7 linked regions of the Homo sapiens genome follow. The protein of the gene in region 1 purifies or fractionates together with the protein of each later gene. This does not show direct contact. Each region holds a gene or a part of one and is shown in the gene's direction. Other genes may lie near its edges. The genes, in order: SLC14A1, ATP6AP2, MAP7D3, CYBRD1, SON, CLCN5 and TMEM63B.

The links.
Region 2: the proteins of SLC14A1 (region 1) and ATP6AP2 purify together in Homo sapiens (affinity purification with mass spectrometry; one large-scale study listed by BioGRID and IntAct). This does not show direct contact.
Region 3: the proteins of SLC14A1 (region 1) and MAP7D3 purify together in Homo sapiens (affinity purification with mass spectrometry; one large-scale study listed by BioGRID and IntAct). This does not show direct contact.
Region 4: the proteins of SLC14A1 (region 1) and CYBRD1 purify together in Homo sapiens (affinity purification with mass spectrometry; one large-scale study listed by BioGRID and IntAct). This does not show direct contact.
Region 5: the proteins of SLC14A1 (region 1) and SON purify together in Homo sapiens (affinity purification with mass spectrometry; one large-scale study listed by BioGRID and IntAct). This does not show direct contact.
Region 6: the proteins of SLC14A1 (region 1) and CLCN5 purify together in Homo sapiens (affinity purification with mass spectrometry; one large-scale study listed by BioGRID and IntAct). This does not show direct contact.
Region 7: the proteins of SLC14A1 (region 1) and TMEM63B purify together in Homo sapiens (affinity purification with mass spectrometry; one large-scale study listed by BioGRID and IntAct). This does not show direct contact.

The regions. Positions count from the first base shown.
Region 1 is NC_000018.10:45,733,979-45,738,075, forward strand, and holds part of SLC14A1 (urea transporter 1), read left to right. Parts: intron 1-295; coding exon 296-424; intron 425-2,477; coding exon 2,478-2,670; intron 2,671-3,487; exon of another isoform or gene 3,488-3,616; intron 3,617-4,097. UniProt on the Homo sapiens protein: Mediates the transport of urea driven by a concentration gradient across the cell membrane of erythrocytes.
Region 2 is NC_000023.11:40,594,338-40,598,434, forward strand, and holds part of ATP6AP2 (renin receptor precursor), read left to right. Parts: intron 1-2,911; coding exon 2,912-3,007; intron 3,008-3,189; coding exon 3,190-3,327; intron 3,328-4,097. UniProt on the Homo sapiens protein: Multifunctional protein which functions as a renin, prorenin cellular receptor and is involved in the assembly of the lysosomal proton-transporting V-type ATPase (V-ATPase) and the acidification of the endo-lysosomal system.
Region 3 is NC_000023.11:136,244,580-136,248,676, reverse strand, and holds part of MAP7D3 (MAP7 domain-containing protein 3), read left to right. Parts: intron 1-2,335; coding exon 2,336-2,434; intron 2,435-2,528; coding exon 2,529-2,612; intron 2,613-3,881; coding exon 3,882-4,045; intron 4,046-4,097. UniProt on the Homo sapiens protein: Promotes the assembly and stability of microtubules.
Region 4 is NC_000002.12:171,546,193-171,550,289, forward strand, and holds part of CYBRD1 (plasma membrane ascorbate-dependent reductase CYBRD1), read left to right. Parts: intron 1-4,097. UniProt on the Homo sapiens protein: Plasma membrane reductase that uses cytoplasmic ascorbate as an electron donor to reduce extracellular Fe(3+) into Fe(2+).
Region 5 is NC_000021.9:33,570,429-33,574,525, forward strand, and holds part of SON (protein SON), read left to right. Parts: intron 1-2,122; exon of another isoform or gene 2,123-2,202; intron 2,203-2,879; coding exon 2,880-3,027; intron 3,028-4,097. UniProt on the Homo sapiens protein: RNA-binding protein that acts as a mRNA splicing cofactor by promoting efficient splicing of transcripts that possess weak splice sites.
Region 6 is NC_000023.11:50,079,332-50,083,428, forward strand, and holds part of CLCN5 (H(+)/Cl(-) exchange transporter 5), read left to right. Parts: intron 1-1,262; coding exon 1,263-1,385; intron 1,386-2,309; coding exon 2,310-2,516; intron 2,517-4,097. UniProt on the Homo sapiens protein: Proton-coupled chloride transporter. Functions as antiport system and exchanges chloride ions against protons. Important for normal acidification of the endosome lumen. May play an important role in renal tubular function.
Region 7 is NC_000006.12:44,137,045-44,141,141, forward strand, and holds part of TMEM63B (mechanosensitive cation channel TMEM63B), read left to right. Parts: intron 1-1,435; coding exon 1,436-1,473; intron 1,474-2,422; coding exon 2,423-2,565; intron 2,566-2,663; coding exon 2,664-2,715; intron 2,716-3,207; coding exon 3,208-3,316; intron 3,317-3,983; coding exon 3,984-4,054; intron 4,055-4,097. UniProt on the Homo sapiens protein: Mechanosensitive cation channel with low conductance and high activation threshold. Osmosensitive cation channel preferentially activated by hypotonic stress.

The DNA.
Region 1 (4,097 bases):
GAAATCATCCCCCATTCCCCATCCATGGAAAATTGTCTTCCATGAAACCTGTCCCTGGGGCCAAAAAGGCTGGGGACCACTGATCTAAATGCACATTTATATTTTTATCTATGTATATTTCACTTCATGTCTTTATTAGTTTTTGTACGATGCTTACGTAGACTTTGAAATACATTTCCAAATATAATCTCATTTTTTAATATGAATATGATCTGGAAGTTACTAGTGTTATTTATGTGCAAGTGCAACCAAAGCTCACCCAGGAAATGTCCGTGCTGTGTCTCTTGCCCCACAGGTCATTAATAGCATCTGGGCTCTATGGCTACAATGCCACCCTGGTGGGAGTACTCATGGCTGTCTTTTCGGACAAGGGAGACTATTTCTGGTGGCTGTTACTCCCTGTATGTGCTATGTCCATGACTTGGTAAGTTACAATTGGTTTTCAAAATGCCTTTTTGAAAAAAAAAACATGGCAGAAGGAGGGAATGGGAGTTGTTATATGGCAGAGTTTCAGTTTTGCAAGATGAAATATGTTCTCTGAATGTATAGTGGTGATGGTTGTACAACAATGTGATTGTCCTTAATGTCATTGAGCTGCACACTTAAAAATGGTTAGCCGGGTGCGGTGGTTCTTGTTTGTAGTCCAAACTATTCAGAAGGCTGAGGGGGAAGGATCACTTGAGCCCAGGAGTTAGGGGCTGCAGTGAGCTATGATTGCGTCACCGCACTCCAGTTCTCCGAACCTCCTTGCTTGGGCTAAGTGAGGAGGAGGAGGAGGAGGAGAAGGATGGAAAGGAGGAGGAGTAGCAGGAGGAGCAGGAGGGCAAGGAGAAGGAGGAAGAGGAGCAGGAGGAGGACAAACAGTTAAAATGGTAAATTTAAAATTGGATTCCAGTAGATTCTGTCTATTGGAAACAGAAACAACCATTTTAAAAGATGTATATTTCCTTACAACCAGTTATTTGGCCTTTTGTCTGATCTGGCTACACATCCACTAATACCTCTCAACCAGAGGTGGCTGCACATTGACACTTCCATGGGGAAGGGAAACAGTGCTGCAATGAAGATACGAGTGCAGGTGTCTTTTTGGTAGAAACACACTGATGCACGTGGCCCCCACATACACTTGACTCCTCCCTCCCAAGACTCTACTGTCATTGGTCTGCGGTAGCGCCTGGGCTTTGGGAGTTTCTAAAGCTTCCCAGATGACTCTAAAGTATAGCCAAAGTTGAGACCCACTTCCTCCATCATTGCCTCTCAAACTTGAGCAATATGAGAATCACCTGCAGGGTTTGTTACACCACAGGCATCTGCTCCCCGGCCCCAGGGTTTCTGATGCAGTCTATCTGGGGTGGGGCCCGAGAATTTGCGTTTCTAACGCATTCCCACATGATGCTGGGAGAACCACTGTGCCTACGTGAATTCCCCCTTACCCACCTGCCCCCCAGGTCTCCCTTAGAAAAAATTTTTTTGCTGAATTCCTTTTTTTTCAAACCCAAATCCTTCAAACTAGTTTTTATGTTGACAATGTCTTACATCCTTTTTCTGGAAACAAAGATTTCCTTCTTTCTATATTGTAGTTAAATATAAAATACTAATATGCACATAAATAAGCACAGCCTGCTGTGGGCAGTGTCTGCAGAAGGGATGCCCACCCTTACTGTACCCACGGGTGTGTGGACGAGGACCTACCTGTAGAGCTAAACTCTTCAGGAAGTAATTTGGGCCCTGCTCTGAAGAATAGGTTCGTGGGAAGGAGGCCTAGCCTGTAAGTGCTCACCACGCTCCCTTCCACAATCCAGGAAAATGGGAGTTCTGGTCTTTAAGTGATGGCTCTTTGATTGGGCCAACAAGTGAGAGCCTATGAGGGACCTCGGGACCATGCAGCCCAGCCCCACAGTTTATGGGCTCTGAGGCTAAGGAGATGCGCCTTGCCTAGGTCATGCAATTTATCAACAGCTCAAGGACACACACTCTGCCCCACCAACTGTGATATCATTTTCCTCCAGCTCACACTACCTGCATCCTTGAACGATTGTTTCTCTTTTCCAAAAATAGGTATATTAAAGAAATAATATCTGCCAAATCAGAATCAGGGTTGCCTCTAGTGGGGAGGGAGGGACATAAGAGCAAGTGGAGGGACAAAGGGGACTTTAACTATGTAGATAATATTTTATTTTGTATGTCATAAGTACTTCAAAAATATTTTTAAAATCTCAATATATAGCTCACTCTGAGCAACCCCAGAGTAGAATTTTTCAAAAGCCAAATAAGCTGAGAGTTGATTTTTTACTTTATGTAATATTTACTGCCTCTATAATAGGATTTATCCCAAGTTTTCTTTCTGTGGCAAATGTGCCAACACAACACGTAAGGGGCCTGTTGGCAGGTGAAACAAAGCCCCTCCAGAGTATAGCGATTCCGTGTGTCAGCCTGCTTTGTCACATGCACATTCTTTTGCTCTGTTCTTTTTTTAGCCCAATTTTCTCAAGTGCATTGAATTCCATGCTCAGCAAATGGGACCTCCCCGTCTTCACCCTCCCTTTCAACATGGCGTTGTCAATGTACCTTTCAGCCACAGGACATTACAATCCATTCTTTCCAGCCAAACTGGTCATACCTATAACTACAGCTCCAAATATCTCCTGGTCTGACCTCAGTGCCCTGGAGGTAAGAGACACTGGCTTCTCACATTCGCCCTGGCTCTGCAAGATACGCAATGGCCTCCTGGTCAACTGTCCACGGGTGTCAGAGTCTCCTAGATGCTCAGGACTATGGTGGCCTTTCTGCCTTCATCTTGCCATTTAAAGCATTTGTTCTACTCCAGAGCATTAGGGTCTAAGGGATTTTTTAAAATTACTATTTAGTCAAGCTGATTTTTCTGCCTTTTCCCCTAAACATCTACAGTGCTAACCCCAGAGTACAGTTCCACTGGGAGTCACTCTATCGTAAGCTTGGGGGTGGGGGTGATGGGAGCCAGCCCTTAAGGCATGTGGCCTCCAGCCTGGTTTTAAATCTTCCATAGTCTACTCCCTCCAATCAAAAAACTGGATGCTTACTCTTAGAGCTTCTGACAGAACCTCTCTATTCTGCTTTTCCTTATGGCATAGCTCATAGAACATCTACAATAATTTAGGGTTCCCAAGCTTTGGTAGGCATCAGAATCACCTGGGGAGCTTTAAATACCCAAACAGGCTTCATCTCAGACCCTCTAAATCACAATCTCTAAGGGTGGGGCCTGGAACCTGTTTTAACAAACTCCCCAAATTGTGATGCGGGCCAGAGTTTGAGAACCACTGTATCAAGGGGTGAATCCTATGTATCTCTTTAAAGATGGCTATAAAGAGATTCTGTATTTTTTAAAACCTGGTTAACCCAAATCAAATTCCAGCTCTTCCTGTTGGTGTGTAATAAATATGTTTAAGGTTTCTGGATTATCAAGAACAAGAGAACACCTGAAATTAGAAGAAAACCAAAGAAACCTTACCTTTTTAATGTGCTCTCCCACTGTCAGGTTATGAAACGCCCTTTTGTCTTCTTTGTTGAGTGATCAAAACACACGAGGAGCTCAAGTCACCTTCTCCCTAGCTTCTTGCCAGAAAACTAAAGGGAGCACCTGGAAATAATTCAGAAGGAAAAAATCAAAGATTCATTAGAACTACCCATGAAAAATAACAGTATAAAATAGCATTAATCGATCTAGAACTGCACTAACACAGGAGCCTCTAGCCCCATGTGGCTATATAAATTTAGATGTAGATTAGTTAAAAATTGAGTTCCTCAACCTCTCTAGCCACATCTCAGGTGCTTGATAGCCACACGTGGCTAGGACCCACTGTATTAGACAGCACAGATACAGACTATTCCATCATCTCGGAAAGTTATCCTGCACAGTGCTGATCTGGGGCAGGGGAAGCCTTGTCCTTCTCACTCTGAATGAACAGCCCATCCTCAGCACCAACCCCAACCCTATGGCTACCTGAGAGAGAGTTCTGCAGCCAAGTCCAAAAACAAACAAACAAACAAAAAAAGCATATGCCATCTTTGCCAAGTTCCCTGGTCTAGAAATAGCAAAATGTCTAGACATGAAGACTCAG
Region 2 (4,097 bases), on another chromosome or scaffold:
AGTCATCAAGGAAATGGAAAATCTTAAAAGCTGTGAGGGAGAAAAGACACTGTCATTACAAAGGAATGAGAGTAGAAGGAAAGCAAGGAAAATGTAGTGATTGTGTAGTATGAGCTAGGCTGAGTATTATTTGCATTGTCATAATAATGAAATGATGCTGATCAAGTGAAAATTTTGATATAACTATTGGGTAAGAGTGGGGAGATAGAAACAGAAGCAGAGCGCATGGATGGCTCAGCGCATGGATGGGGCAGTGGTTGGTGATGTGAGAGAGCTAAAGCCTCATTTTCTATAATGGATAGTAAATAGACAAGACCTAAAATTGAAAAATCAGGAGATGTAATTTAAGTGTCTTATTTAGAGATGTTAAAAGCAAAAAAAGTCAACAAGAAAAGATAGTTGGAATAGATGCACTCCTAAATAATTCATGGGTTGAGGAGGAAATCACTGTGGAACTTTTTAAATTATTTGGAACTGAGTAACAATGAATGTAGCATTTATTTACAAAATTGGGAGGTGCAGCTAACGTGGTAAGAAAAGGGAAATTTATAGCCTTAAATGCATGTTTTAGACAATTTAGGTTGTCTAAGAATGGAAATTAATGAGCTAAAGAAAGCGGAAGAACTTCAGAGTAAATACACATAAAGTAGAAGGAAGGGAACAATACAGATCAAAAGGCAGATTATTTCACAGGGAGCATTTAAGTCATTTTTTATGTGATTTCTGTGAAAATCATTGCAGAAGATTTTCTTTAAAATTATAAAAATCCAAAATGCCATTTTGAGATTTTTATTAGCATGTAATCCAAAAATAAAGATTTAAAAACAGACTAGCCTCATTTTACATGAGAAGAAGCTGTGCTGTGTGAGGAGCTCATTTTATTGCTTGGCCCTGGTTGGCTGCTCAATGCTTTTCCTAGCAGAAGATGGTAAATGAGATAAAAGATTCAGGGGCAAACCCCACAAAACATAAAAATCAGAGTATCTTAGAATTCCATTTAACGAAGCTTCCATTTGATTAGCTAGCTGTTTTAGTTAGAATTTCAAGTCATACAGGTACAGAAATTTGAGGACAGATATGCATCTCCCTTACAATACAGTGAGAGAAAAACCATCATTCGATATTAAGCAGCCAAGCTTTTTACTTTTTGAGCTTAGCTGCCTATATAATTATTTCTTTTCCTTCATTGGTGTTCATTTGATTCATGAGCTGCTTCAATTTGATCGCTATGGACATGGTTCCTAATCTTCAACTTTCCTGAACCGAGCGCCATTTCACTAAGTGAAGTGAGGCTGGAAAGTTTGCATCATTTGCTCATGTATTCCCCTCACAGCCTGAGGAGGTAAACTCTATGATCGCTAAAGGAAAGCACCTATAGATGATTCAGGGCGGCTGCTAGCAGTATGCTTTTGCAACTTTGAACTCTCTTCCCCCTCTTCACTTACTCATTAACTCATTTTGAGAGAATTTGGGGAAGAGTTAATAAGCATCTTGAGTAAGAGAAAAAAATTATTTCATTTCACAGAATCATAAAATTGATCACTTAATATTGATGCTGGGCCTGGGCATGGTGGCTCACGCCTGTAATCCCAGCACTTTGAGAGGCCAAGGCAGGCAGATCACATCAGGCCAGGAGTTTGAGACTAGCATGGCCAACTTGATGAAACCCCGTCTCTACTAAAAATACAAAAATTAGCCAGGCGTGGTGGTGCGTGCCTGTAATCCCAGCTATTCAGGAGGCTGAGGCAGGAGAATCACTTGTACCTGGGAGGTGGAGGCTGCACTGAGCCGAGATCGCGCCACTGTACTCCAGCCTGGGCAACAGAGTGAGGCTCTGTCTCAAAAAAAAAAAAATGTGATGCTGGGATTTTATCAGTAAGACATAATCACATTGATTTCTGCCTGTATCATATTAGCGTTACTTTGCTACTTGTAAACATGAATCTTTAAGTAGTAAGGGAACTACTGAATGAAAGATCAATGTAAGAAATCTCCATTAAAACAAAAACATGACTGTACTGCTTGTTTTAATACAGTAATACTGGGAATGAAATAATTTTTTTAGGGGAAAAATAACTGTAATTTATTTTTTTAAATCATGTACTGCAAAACAAATCTATGGGGATAGAAGTCAGAATTTTTGTTACCCTTGAGGGTGGAGGTAGTACTTCGAGGGCGCTGATAGTGTTCTGTGTCGATCTGGCTGGGCTACCTGAGTGCATGCATGTGTAAACATTTGTTGAGCTGTTACCCCAAGATTTGTATACTATATTATATGTATTTTGCACTTTAATAAAAAAATTGAAGGAAAAAAGTAGGTCTTATCACCATTGGTTATTTCAATCTAATAATATCAACATGTCCTAAGATAAAGGCTTCAAAAACCTTGTGACATACTTAACACCTTATCTAAGAGTCTTTAGGCTATCTGAAGACAAATGTTAAATCTCATTAAACATTTTTAAAATTTTGAAATGAAAGATGAATTCCATTTTTATTTCAATTAAATTCAATACTCAGATTCCTCTAACCTCTTAAATGCAAATTAAATACTTTATTGTGGAATATGCATTCATCGTGGCACATTTAGTCAATATTGAAACCAAATGTATTGCTGCTTCAAATACATGAATGACCACCAGAAAATGGTTTGTGCTAGATATAGTGTTGTGTCCATCAGGTTTAAGTTATTTTCCACTGAGGCATGATGGGAGATACAGACTTGGCTTACCAGGGGGCTGTTTAATCTTCTGTGCCCTCAAAAGGGCTTGTTTGGAAATGATTTCGGGCTTCTAAATTTCCATAGAAAGTGCTGGAAAAAAGTTTAAGGCTTCTTTTTAAATACCATCTGAATGATTTTTCTTCCCACTTTGGTTCACATAATAATTGCGTTCTTACTCTTAAATTTCAGGCAGTTCCTTTTAGTCTTGACAGTGTTGCAAATTCCATTCACTCCTTATTTTCTGAGGAAACTCCTGTTGTTTTGCAGTTGGCTCCCAGTGAGGAAGTAAGTGATAAGGGTTTTATTCAAGACATTTTAAAAAATAAGCTTTTATTATTTGAAAATTATGAAATGTAATTTTATTATGAAAATATAAAACTAATTTATGAACAATGTTGTCATACCTCTGGGTATTGGAACTAATCTGTAGAATTTGAGCAACTTAAAATTTTCTATTCTTCTTACAGAGAGTGTATATGGTAGGGAAGGCAAACTCAGTGTTTGAAGACCTTTCAGTCACCTTGCGCCAGCTCCGTAATCGCCTGTTTCAAGAAAACTCTGTTCTCAGTTCACTCCCCCTCAATTCTCTGAGTAGGAACAATGAAGTAAGTGCAGTTATTCAATGAATACATGAATATCATTAATTTCCGTCTTTTTAAAAAATAGAGACAGGGTCTCACTCTGTTGTCCAGGCTGGTCTTGAACTCCTGGCCTCAAGCAATCCTGTCTTGGCCTCCCAAAGTGCTGGGATCACAGGCTTGAGCCACTGCATCTGGCCTCCCATTCCTTATACTACTTGAAATTTTGGAAATTTTGCTATTTTAGAAAATGAAAGATTGTGCACATTTACTGCTGGGGTAGATTCTTCTTTAGTGTAATTTTCTTATGACTCTCATGAATAAACTGATCCTTTTTGTGAGTTGAGCTGTGGTAAATAACATCACATTTTAGCACGAGGGTTGCCACCTATTAATTCAAACAAGCCAGAGGTCATAGATCTACTTGGTGACTGGTGGAGCTGTGTGGATCTGGTAACTTGGAAGCCATTGTTCACTGCCTCTGCTGATTTGTTGCCACATTTTTCTCATTCATTCTGGACATTGCAGTGGAGGGAGCCACCTCTACTTTTGACTCCTGTCCTTCAGTTTCTCCATCTGCTCATGCGCCCTCTTAACCATGTGGCATGCCACTTTCGTGGTGGCCTCCCCTTTTTATTTGCTGTGGATGACCAGGGCCATCATCCTTTATTCTCTGATGTGGAAACTATTCAAGGGAAGTGAGCAAACTGGGCCAATGGTAGGATGTCATTGCAGAGTGCCAGGATATCCTGATGCTTTGAAGGAAAACCACTGGAGAACTTGGATGCTTTATCATG
Region 3 (4,097 bases), on another chromosome or scaffold:
GAAAAGTTCTATAAATACAGATTAAGATTCATAATTCAGTTTTAGTAATACACTACACATTTTCTTATTTAATCTCTGGGCAAAATATAACTTTTACTTTAATTTTGGATTTAGAATTAGTATAAGGACTACAGAAATACCTTGCTGTTACTTTTAACTGAATATTAAGTAAATTCCCTCATTCATTTAAATGCATGTTAAGTAAATTCTTTCATTCAATGAAGTTGAATAAAATGTTGACTTTATTATATCCAGACATAAAGGTGTTATCCCATTTTCTGGACATTTTAAATAATTTTTAAACCCTGTCCTTTCTGTTAATGTATTTCTTACCAGTAGGAATTTGGATACAAAGGTCTAAAAATCAGATTTGATACTACTACCACATTAACCTTTATATGATTCGGTTCATTATTCTCACCACAGCTACTTCTAAGGTTATTTCTGTTTAATAAGATTTTTAATTAGCCTGGTAAAAGTATACTTTTTTTGAGACAGGGTTGCCCAGGCTGGAGTGCAGTGGGATGCTAAAGGCTCACTGCAGCCTCAAACTCTTGGGCTCAGCCTCCTGAGTAGCTGAGACTACAGGCATGCACCACCACACCCAGCTAATTTTTGTATTTTTAGAGATGGGAGTTTGCCATGTTGGCCAGGCTGGTTCCAAACTCCTGACCTCAAGTGATCCACTTGCCTTGGCCTCCCAAAGTGCTGGGATTACAGGCATGAGCCACCACTCTGGGCCAAAAATGTAGATTTTGAGGGAAATTATCAGCTAAATAGTGTCAAATACGGACTATCCTTGGGACTTCTAAGCAGGAGAACTGAATGTGTAAAAACAATACTACAAGTACTTTATTGTTTTCTCTGCACTCACATAAAAATGTTGCAAGTGGGTATATAGGAGTGTCTATAGACCAAGAATTTTTGTTAATATACTAGTGCTCAAATTCAGAAAATAATTGTGGTCCATGGAATTGCCAGTACTTAAATTATTAAGGAAGCTGAGAAGAGTCTAATCCTCAAATTAAGCTAGGTCATATATTATCTGGGCTGTTCGGCCTCTGGGGTAAAAAAAAAAAAAAAAAATGGTGATCCTTACGGCAGCAATTGTGATGTCATTTTCAAGATTATGCTGTAAAATAACTCCCTCAGTAGCAATTAACACCTCAGAGTTCATTCATTTTATAAGTCCAAGGACAGCCCCTCTATTCCCTCAGTTACTTTAACTGCCCATCTTCAACTGTTACATTTTTCTCAATACATAGAAACCAGACTTGTATGCAGCATCACAGGGGCTTACTTCCTGTGCTTTTCTACAAAAGAAGAACAGAGTTAGTTTTCAGTGTTATTTTCAATACTCTTTCTGAAGATGCTCAGTATTGTGGGACATTTTAGATATAGCCATGTGTGGAATTAAAGGGTTCAGGGATTCCCCTATAATAACTCATGTGTGTCATCCTGGAATTTTAGTTTTCTTACTTTTCCTCATACTGTGCTTTCCTAATCTTACACTTCACCCTTATTGAAGTTTATCACTTTTCTGCCTGTTTACACGTTTGTTTGCACCTTGTATAATTTATATTTGTTTGCTTGACATCTACCTAGAATGATACCATCTCATTGGAGATTACTTCTTCTAAAAGAATATTTATTTCTCCACCTTCAATATGCATCAGAATAGAGCTCAACAATTGTAGATGCCTGGGCCCCACAGCCAGAGACTGGTGATGGGGAGCGGGCAGGCAGGCATTGCTGATTTTCTAAAAGTGAGTTAGGTGATTCCAGTGTGCAACCAGGATAGAAAGCCCCTAATTTAGGTAATTTATAAATGTACTCCTTAACATTGGTTGGGCCTGATCTTTCACTGAGTATTTCACTGTTAACACTTTGCTTCCCAATTCAGATCCATAAATTCTTAACCTGTTATCTTCTGAATTCCCAATTTATGGTGAAACTTAATTTTCCCAATTCCTCGCCAGCTCAGTATTTCTAACACTTGGTGTAATGTTTTGTTTGAGACATTTTTAAAACCTATTAATCATTGGCTCCTACTCATCCACAAACTTATGCTGCCACCGCCACTAACAACTCAATTATCTTTATGTCTACAAATACCCTGGCCCATCATAGTAAACACTTTAAATTCTTTGTTAAAGTGTTGTTGAAGATCATAGGTGTTCAATATATCTTTGTTGTTGACCCAGATGAAATCAGTCATGATTTATAGAAGTGATCCTATCCTTTATCATCAAATACAATTGGCCGTGGTTTGCTGACTCCTGTGTTAGCTATCCGTATTCTTAACATCTAATCCTTTTATCTCCCTGTATTTTAGTTGCTGCAGCAAACGAGATTGCTAAGGAAAGGAGGAAGCAAGATGTGGTTAATCGTGTTGCAACCCATTCCTCAAATATAAGATCGACATTTAAACCAGGTATAATTTCTCTGATGCTTTGATAGATGTCAAAGTGTCATATCTTTAAAATTTGATATCCTATTAATATCTAACTATATTCTTTTTTTTTTAGTAATCGATGGATCCATGCTTAAAAATGACATAAAACAAAGATTAGCAAGAGAGCGCAGAGAGGAGAAAAGGAGACAGCAAGACGGTATATTTTAGACCTTTTTTCAAAAATCAAAATGAATTGTGTTATATATTGCAAAGTGTTTTTAACTTATTCCTCCTAATTTGTTTATATGATAGAGTATAATTTTTATATTATGTATTATTTTGGATTAAATCCTTTTACTAAATCAGGCAAGAAGGCCCATGAAAATTCTTTGATTAAATTGTTTAATTTTTGAAGGAGTAGTTTATCTTAGCTTTGATTTTCTGAAAACTAAGGTCTGGAAATTTCTTCAATATTTGTAAAAACAATCAGAATGGGATTTCAGTAAAAGTGATTCTTTTTTTTTTGTTTTGTTTTGAGGCGGAGTCTTACTCTGTCACCCAAGCTGGAGTTCAGTGGCGCGATCTCAGCTCACTGCAGCCTCCGCCTCCCGGGTTCATGCCATTCTCCTGCCTCAGCCTCCCGAGTAACTGGGACTACAGTCACCCGCCACCACACCCGGCTAATTTTTTGTATTTTTGGTAGAGACGGGGTTTCATCGTGTTAGCCCGGGTGGTCTTGATCTCCTGACCTCGTGATCCACCCACCTCGGCCTTCCAAAGTGCTGGGATTACAGGCGTGAGCCACCGCGCCTGGCCAGTAAAAGTTATTCTAAAAATGAAAATAAATTGCCAATAATCCTAACATAGATAAGATGAAAAGCATGTTACCAAGTTGTAAAAAGATTATCCTTTTAGATCCTAATTTATACAGAGTCACACTTCAGAAGCATTTAGTGAGGGAAAATTTGAATATAGGAAAAATTTTGCTCTCCTGTAATATGGTATATGGTTAAGTCCATTAATGTAAAACTGGCATGTTTAATATGGTCTGTATAGATGAGGACTTTGAAAGAAGTTTCCTAGTAGAAGGGAACAAAACATGTATCCTGGCCATGCAGTTTTTAATAATTAGTATTTTAATGTACAGCATATTAATATGGTAGGGTTTGACTTTAGCTCAAATCAGCAGAAATATCACATGAAAGAAAATATTTTTTCTTAATTTGGAATTGTAGTTTGGACAGGATGAGAGTCATTTGGCACAGACAATCCAGTTCTCCAGAGTTAAATGAATACTCAGTGAAAATGGTTCTGCAGTGGCTACCTCTGTTCACTTTTATAATAAATCTTTAGTTACTAGCACAGGTTGTGTTATTTTAAGAAAGTGAATGAGATGTGTTAACTTTTTCCTTCTGTGTGTGTAATGTGGAAAACCTAAATATTTTCTTGGCTCTTACACCTTGAAAATGTATTTGGAATATTTCAGCCAATAAAGAAACACAACTACTTGAAAAAGAAAGAAAGACCAAGCTCCAATATGAAAAACAGATGGAGGAAAGACAGAGAAAGCTGAAGGAGCGAAAAGAGAAAGAAGAACAACGGAGAATAGCTGCAGAAGAAAAAAGACACCAGAAGGATGAAGCACAAAAGGTACATAATTTTGCAGCCTGTGCATGAGAGGATAAACTGTGTTGCCTGAGTC
Region 4 (4,097 bases), on another chromosome or scaffold:
GAAGACCTCAGTTTGGATTAGGTTCATCCATTTGATAGTTGGTGACCGTGGACCAAGTTACTTCTCTGAATTTCTTTTGCACAGCTATAAATCAAGGATTATAATCCTTCACAAAATCATAAGAATCAAAGCCAAATAATGCATCTAAAGGTCCAGCCCAGGGCTTAGCACACTGGTATAACACAAACTAGCTGTTGTTATTATAAGTGTAAATCCTGTGGTATGCCCCTTTATGACCTGCAGATGACATTTTCCACTTCTACTATTGATCATAGGTACCTTCATGGTTAAGAACATGCATTTTTTGTCATTGCAATTTTATTCCCAAATCTATTCATATATTCAGCAGTGAACCGAATACCCGTTATATGCCAGATACCTTGCTAGGCTGGGCTGTGGGTGATACCTGTTCCACAAGACAAATGTGGGCTCAAAGAGACATGCTCTCTGCCCTTGTAAAGCTTGCAGGGAAGATAGGCAATTGAGTATTTGGTAGATAGGAAGTGTTCTGGGAGGCCTCTCATATAGTATGTGAGAGCTCTCATATAGGGGATAAAGGAAGTCACACCTCACACCAAGACCTGAAGCCACACACCTGGTGTAGAAAGGGCGGAGAGTCTTCTAGGTGGATGGAATAGCATGTGGGGAAGAGTTTGTGGTATTTGAGGAGTAGGGAGGAGACCAGGCTGTCCAGAGCAGGGCATAGAAGATGAATTGGAGGCTGGACAGGTATAATTATAGGGAGACTAGCTTGCAGGTGTTTATGGAGTTAAGATGAGAAACAATGGTGGCCTAGAGGAGTAGCAGTAGCAATGTAGCAAAGTGGATAGATTCTAAAGATATTTAGCAGGTAGAATTAATGCGTGATGTAAAGAATGAGAGAGAGTCACTCACAGGCTTTATTGAGCAGGTGGGTAGCCACAAGTTTGAATAAGTGGGTAGATGAGAAGGGAAACATTGGAGGGGAGGAGAGGGCTGGAGGAGTGTTAGATGCTACTGAGGAGATAAGCAAAATAAAGTCTGAAAACTGATCATTAGGCTTAGTAACCTGGAAGTCACTAATGACCCCAGAAAGCAATTTCCTGGCTTCCTTCCTAGGAGCCAGACTGCAATGGATTGAAGAGGGAGCAGAAGGTGAGGAAACAGAGTGGTAACTCAGTCAAGAGGTTTGGGTGAGAGGGGAGGAGACAGAGAGGGTGACAATTGGACAGGGGCAAGAGTCCAAGGAGGCATTTGGGTGCTCTTTTTTTTTTTTTTTTGTCTACTTCTGCTTTTTATTGTGAGAAGTTTGGGCTTATGGAAAGGCTAACAGGATGGCACCAGTAAAGAAAGAGACACTGTGAACACTGGAGAGACACAGTGATGTATAGCTAGGTCCTTGGGAAGCAGGTCACAGAGCACAGCTGAAAAATTGGAGGACATAATCTCCAATGTAATTGAAGAAAAGAATTGTTGGCTTGGGGTGATTTCTTGCTTTGTTTTGTTTGGTGGCAGGAAATTGAGGCTCTTCTCTGAAGTTGCTTCTGTTTTTCCCATGAGGTGATAGTAAAATCATCCCCCAAGAGTAAGGAGGCACATCGGAGAGTCAGACATTTGAGGATGGGGGAGAATGGAGAGCTCATTGATAAATAAGACAATAGAGGTTTGCTGAGCAGGGTTGTTGAACTGCTCATAATCATGAACTTGGAGTGATGCTAGTCTCTGTGGTTGTGGTTTACTCCAGTATTACCTAGCAGACCAGGGGTAGTCATGAAGATGGCTGAGCCAGGGTTGGGGTATTGCCAAGTTGATGTGATGAAAAGACAGTGTAGCAAGGAGATGTAGAATATTGGCAGGAGACTTAATGACCAGTTTGAGTGTCTGTTACGTCCCTTATAAAAAAACTATGGGCATATTGTAGTTGGTGCTGGTTAGATTTATTTATTTATTTATTTTTAATTTTTTTTTAACCCCTGGAAGAAAAGTGTCATTACACTGGAGGAATGCAATTTGGCAATGACCTAAGACAGCGTTTGGTCCCTAGAACAGCAGCATTAGCATCACTAGGGAAATTAGAAAGACAGATTCTCAGCTTCCACCCTAGATCCACTGAACCAAAGACTCGGGCTGGGGCCCAACAATCTGTGCTTTAACAAGCACATAAGGTGATTCAGATTAGTGCTAATATTTCTGAATAATTAATCTAAGAGAAAAGCCTATGAATGGTCAAAAAGTTGGACATTAACAGTAATATTAATGAAAATAAATGTGAGTTCTTTAACATTGGGAGCTTGTCTGTCTTGTGTAGCATTCCCAACACTCCGAACATCTGGGTCATAAGAGGGGCAAAACGTATGTGGAATGAAGGACTGAATGAGTTTATAAAATAGTACAAAGATGAAGGAGAGCTGGGAGGAGCTTCCATATAATAATCTACAGTTTACTTGAAAGCTCATTAAATCTACCTGTACCCTAAAAAAAAAAAAAAAAAAAAAGCAAACCATACCTACTACAAAAGCTAGCCAGGTAGATATTTTCTGGTCTCATTAATGTCTTTTGCAATAAGAGCTTTTGTTATGTCTAAAAGCTTACACACACTAAAAAAAAAAAAAAGAAAACAAAAGAAAAGAAAAAAAACCAACCTCAGGCCAGACATGGCATGGTGGCTCACGCCTGTAATCCCAACAATTTGGGAGGCCAAGGTGGGAAGATCAGTTGAGGCCAGGAGTTGAAGACCAACCTGGGCAGCATAGCAAGGCCCTATCTCTGTAAAAATAAAAACAAAAAAACTCATCTGTTTCATAAAGTGAGAAACTGCCATAGTAGTATACATTTATATCTTTAAGAATAGTAATAATTAACTGAGAAATGCCCAGGCATTTAAGATGGAAACTTTATTCTATTCTATTCTATTTATTTATTTATTTACTGAGACAGCGTCTCACCCTGTCGCCCAGGCTGGAGTACTGTGGTGCAATCTTGGCTCATTGCAACCTCTGCCTCCTGGGTTCAAGTGACTTTCATGCTTCAGCCTCCCAAGTAGCTAGGATTACAGGCCCATGCCACCATACCTGGCTAATTTTTGTATTTTTAGTAGAGAAGGTGCTTCACCATGATGTCCAGGCTGGTCTCAAATTCCTGGCCTCAAGTGATCCACCCACCTCGGCCTCCCAAAGTGCTGGAATGGCAGACATGAGCCACTGTGCCCAGCCAACATGGAAACTTTAAAAGTAAACTTTTATTGTCTATTTCTAATTATAAAAGTAATACACATTAATGTTAAAGTTTATAAGATGTAGAAAGATATAAAGAAAAAACCCTGGCTATTCTGGGCACACTGCCTGTGGGGTATTCCTGTTCCACAAGGAGTAGAACCTCTGCTGCTGCTACAAATTAAATAAAAAAACAAAAAATGAAAAAACCCACTGATACTGCCATAATCTAGAGATATCATTAGCTTTTGGCTTATTCCCTTTAGGCTTTTATTATGCCTATGCAAATGTAGATATAGATATTTAATTTTTAAACATAATTGGGTCATACTGTATTTTCACTTTCATCTCTAAGTAATAACTTTTTATGAAAGTTTATTTTTCCTTAGCTCTTAAGAACTTCCACTGTGTTGAAGAACAGCTTCCTGTAGGTGATGATTCCTAAACACTGGGGCACTTTGTTTGCATATAGTTGGCATTTAGTGTGTTTGTAGACTATATATAATGGAATATTCCACTACCTTCTCTTTTGAGGGTTTTCCAGACTGTTTATCCATATCTCTAGAATAATTTGAGTGAATCAACAGCAGTCATTTTCAAACTTCAACATACGTAAGAATCGTCTGGGCAGTTTGTTAAAAATACAGATTCCTGGGCCCTAATCCAGAAATTGGATTTAGCAGGTCAGAATGTGGCCCAGGCATCTTTTTATTTTTTATTTTTTTGTTGTTGTTGTTTTTGTTCTTGAGACAGAGCTTTGCTCTGTCACCCAGGCTGAAGTGCACAATGTCAGCTCACTGCAACCTCCGCCATCCGGGTTCAAGCAATTCTCTTGCTTCAGCCTCCAGAGTAGCTGGGACTACAGGCATGTGCCACCATGCCTGGCTAGTTTTTGTATTTTTAGTA
Region 5 (4,097 bases), on another chromosome or scaffold:
TTATGCCTGCCTTTTTTTGGGAAGTAGTTGCACTGATGTGTATAGTGAGTACACAGTTAGATTCATTAAGAAATTACAATTTCTGCAGTTTGCTGAGGGTTGGTGTTAGAATAAAGGGTGAAAATGTATATAGCAAAATATTTTAAAGATTGGATTAATCTTGGACTTCTATATTATAGTTACTATGAAAGTGATTTATATAATATTTGAAAAAATGTCTTTCATCTTTGGAAGAACTATAAATGTACATCTATTTCTTTAGTTTTAATTCTTTAATACTATTTAGTCTTGAAGCTAAGTACTCAGCCAGTATTTCAGGAAGTTAGAAATAAAGCTTATGGGTGTTAAAATAGGCACATAATACAGAGTCATGTACACTGCTAGGTAGAAACTTCTGAATGTGCTTCCATTACAAAATTTTGGTCTTTATCTAATGATGTGCTGATCCATAATGTTTGTATACTTATAAATGTGTTAATAACTTAAATAACTTTTAAAAAGTGAATCTTTTACTGACTCAATTGGTTTTCCCCTAAAATAATTTCTTCTGGTATTTGCAGTCTTGTAGGCAGTTAACAGACTTTAATAACTTTAAAATGTTTAGTAGCACCTTGAAAAAAGGCTTCAACTTTATATTTTATGTAAGATATACTTTGGGAAGCAAATTATTTTGATAAATTATGAGATAAAGATATGTTCAGACCAAATTTTAAATTATAGATAAAAGTAGCACTTAAAGGAAAAGATTCATTTGTATAGAATTACTGAAGAATATTTGATGCTAGTATCAACTAAAAAAGAAACTTTTGAAAATTAAAAATGGGCCACAACATGTAGAAGTCATTAGGCAGCTGAAAATTTAGGATGTATGATCCATGTTAAATATCACAAATATTGTCTACTCATTAAATGTTTAGTTGTGTTTAGAAAACCTGTCAAACGATCATTTTGGCTCTTCTTTAGTATAGTCCAGCATCTGCCTTATGTGTTAAAAAACACATGGAATACCAACATCCTCCGTGTTCTTTTTAGTTTGTTGCAGTGTATTTTTAGATTACAAAAAAAGCAAAGTTTTATCAGTAGTCTCATTAATCAGTAAAACATTTAAAGTAGTTCGTTTAAAAGAAATTTTATTTCTAGAATGGAATGATTTGGATGTGACCTGATAAATACAGTTTGTTATTGTGGTCTCATTAAATTAATCAGCTTTTTCACACTGGGGTAAAGAAACAGATGATGATACTAGGGAATGGAAACAAAATTGGAAACCTGGGTTATTTGGGGATTTATATTGTACTCTGCACAGTTGCCCTTTTTTTTAGGCGTGTTCCCTGGAAAAGAGGGACGGATGAACCTGGAAGTAAGTAAAAGACATTCTAGGTGTGTAGCATCAAGGCAGTTAATATCCAAGCATCAGCTTTCTCTTTATACATCTACACTGCATGGCCTGCACCAAATAAGGAACTGAACCAGGGGTATGTTTTTACCTCCACAGCTGCCTCCTTCCATCAGAGCACCTTGATGAACTTAATGTCTAGTCACACGTCATTGGCATGTTTTCTCCCCAGCATTTAATTACAAAGCTGGGAAACAAAAGATGATAGATACAGTTTTACTACTGCATACAAACATTTCTTTTTTACATTCAGTATTAACTTATCAATATAGGAGATGTGCATACTATTTCCTGAGCTACTGAAGTTTTTTTACTCTCTCTGTTGATAAGTTAATGACTTTTGCTATATTATATATTTATATATATATATATATATATATTTGGTAAGAGAACATAAAAACCTAAAATTTAGTAACAAGGGGAAAATAAAGCATGATTTGGAGATATGTTTCAAATTTTTAAAAAATGACCATAAAGATCAACAGTACAACTTAATACTGTTTGCTATATGTACATGGATGCCCTTTAATAAGAGGCATTGAATATTTCTTAACCTGTAAAAATAACTGTTGACCATGCTAATGTATATATACTTGTGCATCTTAGGACATTAAGTGGTTTGCTGCTTTGATGGAAATTATGGTTCAGTGGGTTGGATACAAGAGAGATGACTGTTCACAGAATAACCTGTGAACTTTCACCCCTCTGTATGGAAACTTGTTTCAGGGCCAAATCCTTGTAGCTGTCTTCTTGCCCCGGTCAGTGCCAGCCGTACTATTCACAACACTGCTGCTACCGAGGCCTAGGTATGTAAACATTTAAGGAGTTTTTTAAAAGTCTTTTAACATCAAGCTAGGTTTTAAAAGAATTCAAATTCATTTTGGCATACTTACAGGATATTTTATGTGATTGTTTTCTATTTGTTACTGTGTAAATTTCAAGAGTTTTTTTTTTTTTTTCTGCTTTAGGGATTTTCTAAGTAAAATATTTATACTTGCTTTATAGTAGAATGGGGAAGAAAACTTTGGATGACAACAGTATGCTTCTTCAGTGTCTAAACTATTTCTAAGTGATTTCTGGGCTTTATTCATAAACTAGGTACACCTGGGACAATTAATATCATTGATTGTTTTAACATTGCCTTCTTTTTATTTTGCAAGCTAAGAAGAGATACCAGTGAACCTAAATAGTGGACGAAAACAGGAGTGTTCTAATTTTTTTTTTTTGAGGGGGGCACGAGGGCTACTGTTTCAAAACTGCCATTTACTTGTCTTATTTGACTTCCAAAATACTATTACGTTAATGTGCAAATAATCAGAACATACACACTACAGTATGTATAAAGTATAGAGGAATTTACATTTAATTGCTATAACAGATCTAGAAGTAAAGTAAGATTCCTCTTTTTAGAAAGTAAACAATGAATCTGTCACCAAGTTCTAACTGTAAAATGGGGACATTTTACCTTTCTTTCTTTGGATAGGATCAGTTCTTAAGAGCAGCCCCGGTAACTGGAGGAATGGGAGCCGTTTTGATGAGAAAAATGGGCTGGAGAGAAGGAGAAGGATTAGGAAAAAACAAAGAAGGCAATAAGGAACCCATCCTAGTTGATTTTAAGACAGACCGAAAAGGTAACAAGTTCTTTTTTGGAATGTTTATTAACGTCTCCTTTAACATTACCTTTAATATATCCTTTTGAACCCAGTGATACTGAACTGAAGGCACTTCTTGTATATATACAGGTATTTGTCAGAAAAAACATTAACCCCTTTTGGGGTTCACAGAGCAGCTTATTTTTATATAACTATGGATAGAGACACCAGTTTGAACTTTTAAAAGGCACCTTTTGTTATGCTAGTTGCTAAATATGGAAATGTGTATATATCTAATTTTATTATTACACCTCCAAATTCAACTGGATTTCATGTTTAGAAAACAGGATTTCCATTTTATTTTCTCTTGACAAGGAACCATCCTTTTTTCTAGAGTTTAGTTTATTTTTTGTTAGATATTTTAGCACATCTTCATTATTTCCTATTACAATACTGGTTTAGTCTAGATTTCATAAACCCTGTTTGCTTTTTTCTTCCAAGCTCAGTAGTTAAGTTGGGTTAGAGTATAGTAGACCAGCTGCTGACAATAATGTTACTTCTTCCTGTTGCCTTGTGTTAAGGCATCTTGGAACTGTTAGCATTGACTGTATTTTCCTTTTACCTTCAGATACCTGGGCAGGGCAGCACTGTGTCTTCTATGTAGCTTGTATGTAGTTGCTAAGTATTTAATCATTCCCACAGATGATAGCTAATTGGCGTCTTTTAAATAACTTCTTCCCTTGGAATAATGTAAGTGGAATCATGAGAGGCTTGCCAGCTCAGTATGATTTTTGTATAGCTTGTTTAAACCTCATTTATAAAAGCTGACAAATGTAAAACTGGGATTTATTTTCATCTTTGTAATCAAACAGTAAGTTGAAGCTAACTTCAATAGTTAAACTGTCTTAATGAATTTGGAAATGAACTAGCTCTGCACCAAATACTTTGATGTTAAGTATTGTACAATTTCAGGAAGCATTGTCCTTGGAATTGTGGGACATGGCCTGACTGTAAGCTCTCAGAGAACCACAGATTTCCCAGGATAGGTTTAGAAAAGCTTATATTAGCATGGAATTATTTAGCAAAGGTTGAAAAATTTCCTGTAACAT
Region 6 (4,097 bases), on another chromosome or scaffold:
TGTCTAGGTCAGTGAGTTACTTTAATAGTGTTTTGTGTTATGAAGTCAAAAGTCCATTGGGTTTTGTATTTACTGAGTGAGTTGCAATTCCTAATATTTCTACCAGCAAGCATAACTTCCTAATCAAAATTGCTTTTTTTGTAAGACATGACTATTTGCAGGCCCTTTAATATGGATGAATCTTTCCTGCTGGTCAAAGCTAGATTTCTTTTGTGGCATGCTTCATTTATCACAGGGGAATAGTCTCAAAAAGTATATTCTTTCTATTTTAAAAAATAGTTGTTTCCATTTTATTTATTTATATCTGGTACCACCAGGGTCCAAAACTTTCTACTTATATGGTTGTTCCTGAGTCTGTGGTACCAAAATTTTCTTGAAGATGTAGTTATATGTGGACTCTAAAAAAGAAAGTTGAGTAAACAGAACCAGAGAGCAGAATGGTGGTTACCTGGGGCATGGAGGAGGAGGAAATGGGGAGAAGTGGACCAAAGGGTACAAATTTGCAGTGAGGTAGGGTGAATAAGTCTAGAGAGGTAATGTACAGTAGAGTTAATAATGCTGTATACTAAAAATTTGCTAAGAGTATATTTTAGATGCTCTTACCACACATACAAAGAAAGGTAACTATGGAAGGTGATATGCATGTAAGTTTATTTCAATGTAGTAACAATTTCGCTATATGTATATATATAAAACATCATGTTGTACACCTTAAATACATACAATAAAAAAATTTTAAAAAGCAAAGAAAAAAGCCAAACACCCAAAATTTTGTTACTATAAACTATGAGAATTTGACACCAAGGTAAGTAGCCAAAGGTGAATTTAGTGGAACTTTAGATCCGCTCTTCACTTCAGATGTGAAGCCAAGGTTCAGCCATTCCAAAAAAGCTGGGGGGGTGCTCTTAAGACTCTTGGTAAAATGACATGGAATCATATATATTTGACTACAAAACCCATCAAAGCACTCATATAGAAAGAGAATTTTGTTTCATGGTTTTCCGTTTGCTCTTTTCCTTGTTCATCCTTAGAATCCATGGTAAATTTCCTTTGGGTGTAGCAAAGCATCTCATTTTCAGTACTAAGTGGCCTGACAGTGTTTCAGTAGTTGACAATTCAGAAAGAAAAGTCTTGAACAATTTAATCTCGGTGGTTTTTTTTTTTTTTGGACTTTTTTTCCTGAAAAAACATTACTCAGAAGAGCTGCATGTCTCACTGAAGCTGTCTAGGCTAAAACAAGCTTCTTTTTCCCCCTGTTCCAGGGAGCCTTTGCCTACATAGTCAATTATTTCATGTACGTCCTCTGGGCTCTCCTATTTGCCTTCCTTGCCGTATCTCTTGTCAAGGTGTTTGCGCCTTATGCCTGTGGCTCTGGAATCCCTGAGGTGAGTCTCTTAAAATGGTTTATAAATGGTTACAATATGAATACTTTTTGGTTAAAATCTCTTAATATGTATTCCAGCACATACCACAATTTGATGAATGTTAAACAGGATCAGATCCTGAGGCCATCTAAGACCTAGGTCTTTCCACAAGTCCCTCTCAGCCTGGGCTACCAGGAAATTAAAGGGAGTTGATTCTTAGCCTCCTGAGGGTTCCTGTTGAGCCAGGCTCTGGAAAACTTCCCCTGTTCCCTATCCAAAAAGCTTCCAGAGTATATCCCAAGATTCTGACCTGAAAAAGCAGTGTTATTGTCAGCTTTTTCAGGGCAAAAGAAAGAAAATCATTTGGTACCTTTCCCACAATATGATTTAGGCTACATGGGATGGTTAAAACCCTGTTTCTAACTACTTTTGGCTTAGATTGCTTGACAGTGACTAAAGACACTGAGACTTAGGTTACCAGGATGACTTTGCCCTTCCCTGTTTCCTGACCAGGTAATAAGTCACAATTTTTTTTTTTTTTAAGCCAGGGAATCAAGACTATACCTAACCTTTAAGGTTGTTTCAGGGACATTAGCCTTGTCCTCTCAAAACATGCCTCTTGGGCTACCACGTTGTAACATGAGGAAAACACCTATCCCTCCCTCTCCAGCTCCTCCTTCATATATGCACACTCTCATACTTACAATACATCCTTGCCCAGCTATCACTCCCCTCCCCCTAAAAAGGGGGAACATGAAAGCTTAAAGAACAGTTCTTGCTTTCTTGGGCTCCTGGGCTCTCTTCCAAACAGGGATCACTGTAGGTCAAGCATTTATATGTCACTTATTCAAAAGGTGCAGTTTCTATAATGAGGTCCAGATTTTTGCTTCTTAGCCTTGTTGACTTCCTTAGTCTATATTCAATCTTTCTGTGTTTAACCTGCAGATAAAAACTATCTTGAGTGGTTTCATTATTAGGGGCTATTTGGGTAAGTGGACTCTGGTTATCAAAACCATCACCTTGGTGCTGGCAGTGTCATCTGGCTTGAGCCTGGGCAAAGAGGGCCCTCTAGTGCACGTGGCTTGCTGCTGTGGGAACATCCTGTGCCACTGCTTCAACAAATACAGGAAGAATGAAGCCAAGCGCAGAGAGGTAATAATGAATGGCCTTAATAGTCTCTTTTTGGTTGTGAGCATAAATGATACAATCTTAGGGGGTGAGAATTTGAGAGTTCTACCAATGTTAATGCAAACACCCTTTGACCCAGCAATTCCACTTGTAGGAATTTATCCTACAGATATCCTAGCATGTGTGTGCACAAAGGTGTATAAGGATAGTGCAGCGTCTGTCAACATAGTAAAAAACTGAAGCAACAAAAATGTCCATCAATAGGGAACTGATCTAATAAATACTATTCTGTTCATACTGTAGAATACTTTGCAACCATTAAATGAGATAACCTTTTATATATTGACTTGGAATTCTGGCTATGAAACACCATTTGATTTTAAAAGCCAGTTTCTGAGTAATGTATATAATATAATTCATATTTTTTAAAAGTGTACATGCACTTATTGATAGAAAATGTCTGGAAGGTGGTTTTACCCCAAACTGGTTTTACTTTTTTTTTTTTTTGAGACAGGGTCTCACTCTGTCACCTAGACTGCAGTGCAGTGGCATGATCACGGCTCACTGCAGCCTCGACCTCCCTGGCTCAGATGATCCTCCCACCTCAGCCTCCCAAGTAGCTGAAACTACAGGCACGCACCACCAAACCCAGCTAATTTTTGTATTTTTTGTAGAGACGGGGTTTCACTATGTTGCCCAGGCTAGTCTCGAACTCCTGCGCTCAAGCAATCCTCCTCCCTCAGTCTCCCAAAGTGCTGGGATTACAGGCATGAGACACGATGCCTGGCTCACGTCAAACTGTTAAAAATGTTTATCTATGGTGAGTGGGAGAGTGAGGGGTAGTGAAGGAGAAGTAAGGATTTTAACTTTTTATTGTATGTAATTCTATTCAAGTATATATTGCTTCTCTTACAAAATAAGTTACAGAAAGAATAGATTTTAAAAGAAGTTGTTTATTGCTATGGAATAGTACATATAAGTGCAGTGTATGTTTCAGATGTCGGTTTTTTCACTTTCTATTTCTATCTAACACTATACTTGAATTAGTTTCTCTCTGTATTGGACCTCTCTCTACCTTTTGTTTCAGCCCAGCTAAATTAGTCCCGCCATGGCACCTCTGTAGTGGCTGTCATGTTTATGCAGTTGTTAATGTATGCTGTTTTGAGGAGGAAGGACTTTTTTAAAAAAAAGTTCCAAGTCATTGGTTTACTTTTTTCTTGCTATAATTAAGGGCCTAAGAGAATAATGGCTCTTGCTTTATTTTCTTTGAATTACAAAGAAGTCACATATGGAATGGGTCAAGACTAAGGTCATTTCACTTAAAAGGATTTTTCACAAAACAGGAACCTAATGATTTCTTATGAAAACCAAAAAAAAAAAAAAAATTAACCACAAGACCCAGAAGGAAACTCAAAGATATTGAGATTTCAAATATAGAATAAATTTTGTTGGTTCAAGGGAGAAAGGTCCTGGCACTGTTAGAAAGGAGAGGAAAGCTAGCAGGAGAGAAGATGGGGAAATATGAGTAGATTGTTTAACTACCTGTCATGCAGTAGAGGGACTTAAAGGTAGTGTTAAGTTGGTGAGGTTGTTAAATGGGAATGA
Region 7 (4,097 bases), on another chromosome or scaffold:
AAAACAAACAAAAAAAAGAAATAATAAGCCCTCCAGCCCTGCCTAGAAAAACAGAATCTGTCATGTTGCTCGGAGGTTGCAGGTGGGTGGCCCCTGGCCATGTGGGGCCGGTTGACCTGCTTGTGGATTGGAGCTGAGTGGCAGTGGTCCCTTTTAACAAGGCATATGAATGGCAATTCATAACAGACTCCAGACCCCTTTCATATCAGACCTAACACACAGGTGTTACCTGCCTGGCTCTCCATCATTAATTCCATGAGGGTAAGGAGCCTAGTCAGAACTCTAATCCTCAGACATGGTGTGGCCCTGGTCAGTCCCTCTTGGGCTGCAAGTCCTAGGGGTGGCAGCTCTTCCAGCAATTCCAGCAGAAGATGGCCTTCAGCTTCCTGAGTTGGACTCATACTGGTAGGTGGCAAAGTTGTCACATCTGCTAGCCAGAAGTGTCCAGATGGTCCCCAGACTCAGGTGATGTTGGCAACAGGTAGCATGGTCCTGAATCACGGCCGAAAGGCACCTTTCTACCCCATCCTGTGTTATGTCTGGACCTTCTGCTGGATGGAGTTTGGGGCAGGGTGCCCTCTGCGCAGCCCTCCCCTGAATATCCCCATTCTCTGCCTTTACATGCCTGGAGGGTGGAGGGGAGAGATTTTTTTTTTTTTTTAATTTTTCCCTGAGACAGAGTCTTGCTCTGTCGCCCAGGCTAGGGTGCAGTGGTGTGATCTCAGCTCACTGCAACCTCCGCCTCCTGGGTTCAAGCAATTTTCCAGTCTCAGCCTCCCAAGTAACTGGGATTACAGGCGCGCACCACCACACCCAGCTAATTTTTGTATTTTTAGTAAGAGACGGGGTGTCACCATGTTGGCCAGGCTGATCTCGAACTCCTGACCTCAGTTGATCCGCCCGCCTTGGCCTCCAAAAGTGCTGGGATTACAGGCGTGAGCCACCGCACCTGGCCGGAGGTGGGGAGATACCTTGCAGCTCATAGTGACCCTGGGCTTTTGTCCTTCTGGGGTAGACTAGAGGATAAATAGCTGGAATTCAGGCAGCAAGGCCCTCTTCTCTGCTTTTGGCAGCCATGTTGCAAACTTATTAGCCGGAGGTCTGGAGGTCCTGCTAACCTTAGAACCCCAAGCCCCACCCATCCCACCCTGGCCCACACAGCCACAGGGTATTTGCAGAAATCTGTAGATCTGGACATGGGGATTCACAGATAAACCTGTTTAGTGTTGGTCTTTTTTCTTTGAGGGCTGAGACCTTCCCTCTCTCTCTCCCTTTTTGGGTATAAGCTAGTTCTGAGGGTATAAGGATTTTTTTTTAGTGAGGGGTGTGGAAGCTATGCCTGGAGGTAATTATGAGAATGGGTGGGACTTGAGGGAGGAGAGAGGTTCGGGTTGGTGGGCTGGGGACTCCCGCTGACAGCCCTCTGTTCCCCCAGGGTTTCTGTTCCTGGCTGACAGCCATCTTCAGGATAAAGTAAGTGGACCATCTTCAAGCTCTAAAGAAAGAGAGAAACTTCAGAACCTGGCATCTCCCTACAAAATTCAGAAGCCAGCAGCTTTCAGGGCCTTAGCACTCCTCGCCAGCACAGCACCCTCCTCCCTGCTCTCAAAGGCCAAGCCTCGGGTGCCTGAGCCTCTGCTGTACCCTGAACACTCACTTGACCCCATAATCTCCTCTGTGACCCCCTGCCGGCCCCCCCGCTTCTCTCCCTGCCCTGCCCCACCTTGAGGGAGGGGGTGGAGCCCCTGCCTCAACCTCTGTGCAGCCAGTGAGTGGGGGCAGCAGTAGGCTGGGAGCAGCCAGCCAGCTGCAGGCAGAACTCAGGAGATCCAGCCAGAGTCCAGCAGGCAGGCAGTGAGCGCTGAGAAAGGCAGGAAGCCAGGACAGGTCAGCACTGCCGCCACCACTCCCCCAGGCCTCCCCCAAGGGTACCCGGGCTTCACTACGCCAGGCTCAGCCACACCCATGAGGTGCTGCTGCCCCTCCTCCCATCCTTCCTTCACTTCTGCCTCTTTCACCACTCCTCCTCCTGCTGGTCCTCCTCCTCTCTTGCCTTCCTCCCTCCTCAGATATTTCTCTTTTTTCTTCCCTTTTCTCTGCATTCCTCATTTTTCTTCTTCCCCTTCCTGTCTCTGCAGTCTCTTCTTTCTTTTACCTATCTTTTCCTTCTAGCCCTCTGCCTTCATCCCTCCCCTTCTCCATGCATTTCTCCTTTTTCTCCCTCCCCCTCTCTTCTCCCTTTCTCCCCTCTCCCTTCACAGAAAATAGGGGACCAAGAAGTCCCATTTCAGCCCTATACTACTGCCAGATCAGCTGGAGCTAGGGTGGGTTTGGGGTGGGAGTGGGTGAGGGCAGGCAAGTTGCAGCCCCCTTCTTGCCCTGGTCCTAACCTAATTCCTTTGTCCAACCCGTATGGCTGCAGGGATGATGAGATCCGGGACAAATGTGGGGGCGATGCCGTGCACTACCTGTCCTTTCAGCGGCACATCATCGGGCTGCTGGTGGTTGTGGGCGTCCTCTCCGTAGGCATCGTGCTGCCTGTCAACTTCTCAGGGGACCTGCTGGGTCAGTGAGGGCCAGGACGGCTAGGGTGGAGAGAGGATGGGGCTGGAGGGGATGTGCCCTGACCCCACCATCATCCTCTCCCTCTTCCCACCCCACAGAGAACAATGCCTACAGCTTTGGGAGAACCACCATTGCCAACTTGAAATCAGGGTAAGATGCGAAGCTGGTCGGCCAGGCCAAGGTCTACGACCAGAGTCTGGGCCATGATGTGGGACAGGGAGGAAAGGCAGCTGCGTTGATGGGAGCAGAGCCTACAGGGATGGCTATGGGTCCCTGAGGGCTTGGGTTGGAGACAGAAGAGGGAAATGCCTGCTGAGGATCCCCCAAGGATGAAGAGGATACAGAAGAGGAGGGTGAAATCTCAGGAACCAGGGAGGGCCAGCTGGGGCAGTTGGAGACACTGTAACCAGTGGGTAGGGCGTAGAAAGGTGACCTATCAGGGATATTTTCATTGGAATCGAAGAATTTTGGTGTCTAGGGGATGTGGGATGTGGGCCTGCCTTGCGAGGAGTCAGTGCCAGAAGGCTGGTGGCAGTAGAGGGCCCTGTCTGTATCAAGGGTTTAACACTGACAGGCTGAGGTGTCTCCTCTGAGTGTGTCCTAGCCCCAGTGGCTCCCATGTATCCTCTCTGCTTCTCCCAGGAACAACCTGCTATGGCTGCACACCTCCTTCGCCTTCCTGTATCTGCTGCTCACCGTCTACAGCATGCGTAGACACACCTCCAAGATGCGCTACAAGGAGGATGATCTGGTGCGTGGAGCAGAGCCCAGGTCCTGCCCCATCCCCAGCCTCTTCCCTTCCCTTCCCTGCAGGCCTCTTTTGTCTCAGCCCCAAGAGGTGTCAGCTAGGTTTGAATGCTGGCACAGCAGCTCAGGAGCTCCCATCCTGCAAGTTACATAACCTCCCAAGCCATGATTTTCTCATCTGTAAAATGGAATAACAACAGTACCTCCCCCAAGGTTGTGGGGAATACACAGAAACAGCCGTGCTGTGCCCAGCACTTGGGAAAATAGCAGTGGCTGATCCTAGGATAGTAATATTCCTTCCCCTTCTACATGCACTCACCAAGCCAGAACCGGACACCTACTCCATGCCAGCCACTGTGCTGGGTTCTCAGGGTCTAAGGAGCTGAAAGTAGTACCCCCTTCTGCCTCTATAACCCCTCAAGAGCATGGGACGGCGTGGCTCTTTTGTTAGGCTCACTGCCTGATTTCTGTTGGAAACACTCCCCTGCTTTCCCTGGGACCTGGCTTATCCATAACTAAGGCCTCCTCCCACCCCATCTGTTCCCCTCTGCTCACCTACTTCTCTACCCACTCAAAACAAAGCCTCTTTCTCTAGTGCCCCCCACCCCTCACATCCCCTGGCTCCACTGGGGTCAAGCCTCAGAAGGCAAACCCACTCCCCTGTCACCCAGGTGAAGCGGACCCTCTTCATCAATGGAATCTCCAAATATGCAGAGTCAGAAAAGATCAAGAAGCATTTTGAGTGAGTAAGCCACGCTTCCCCCTACCCTCAAGCCCTGCTGCAG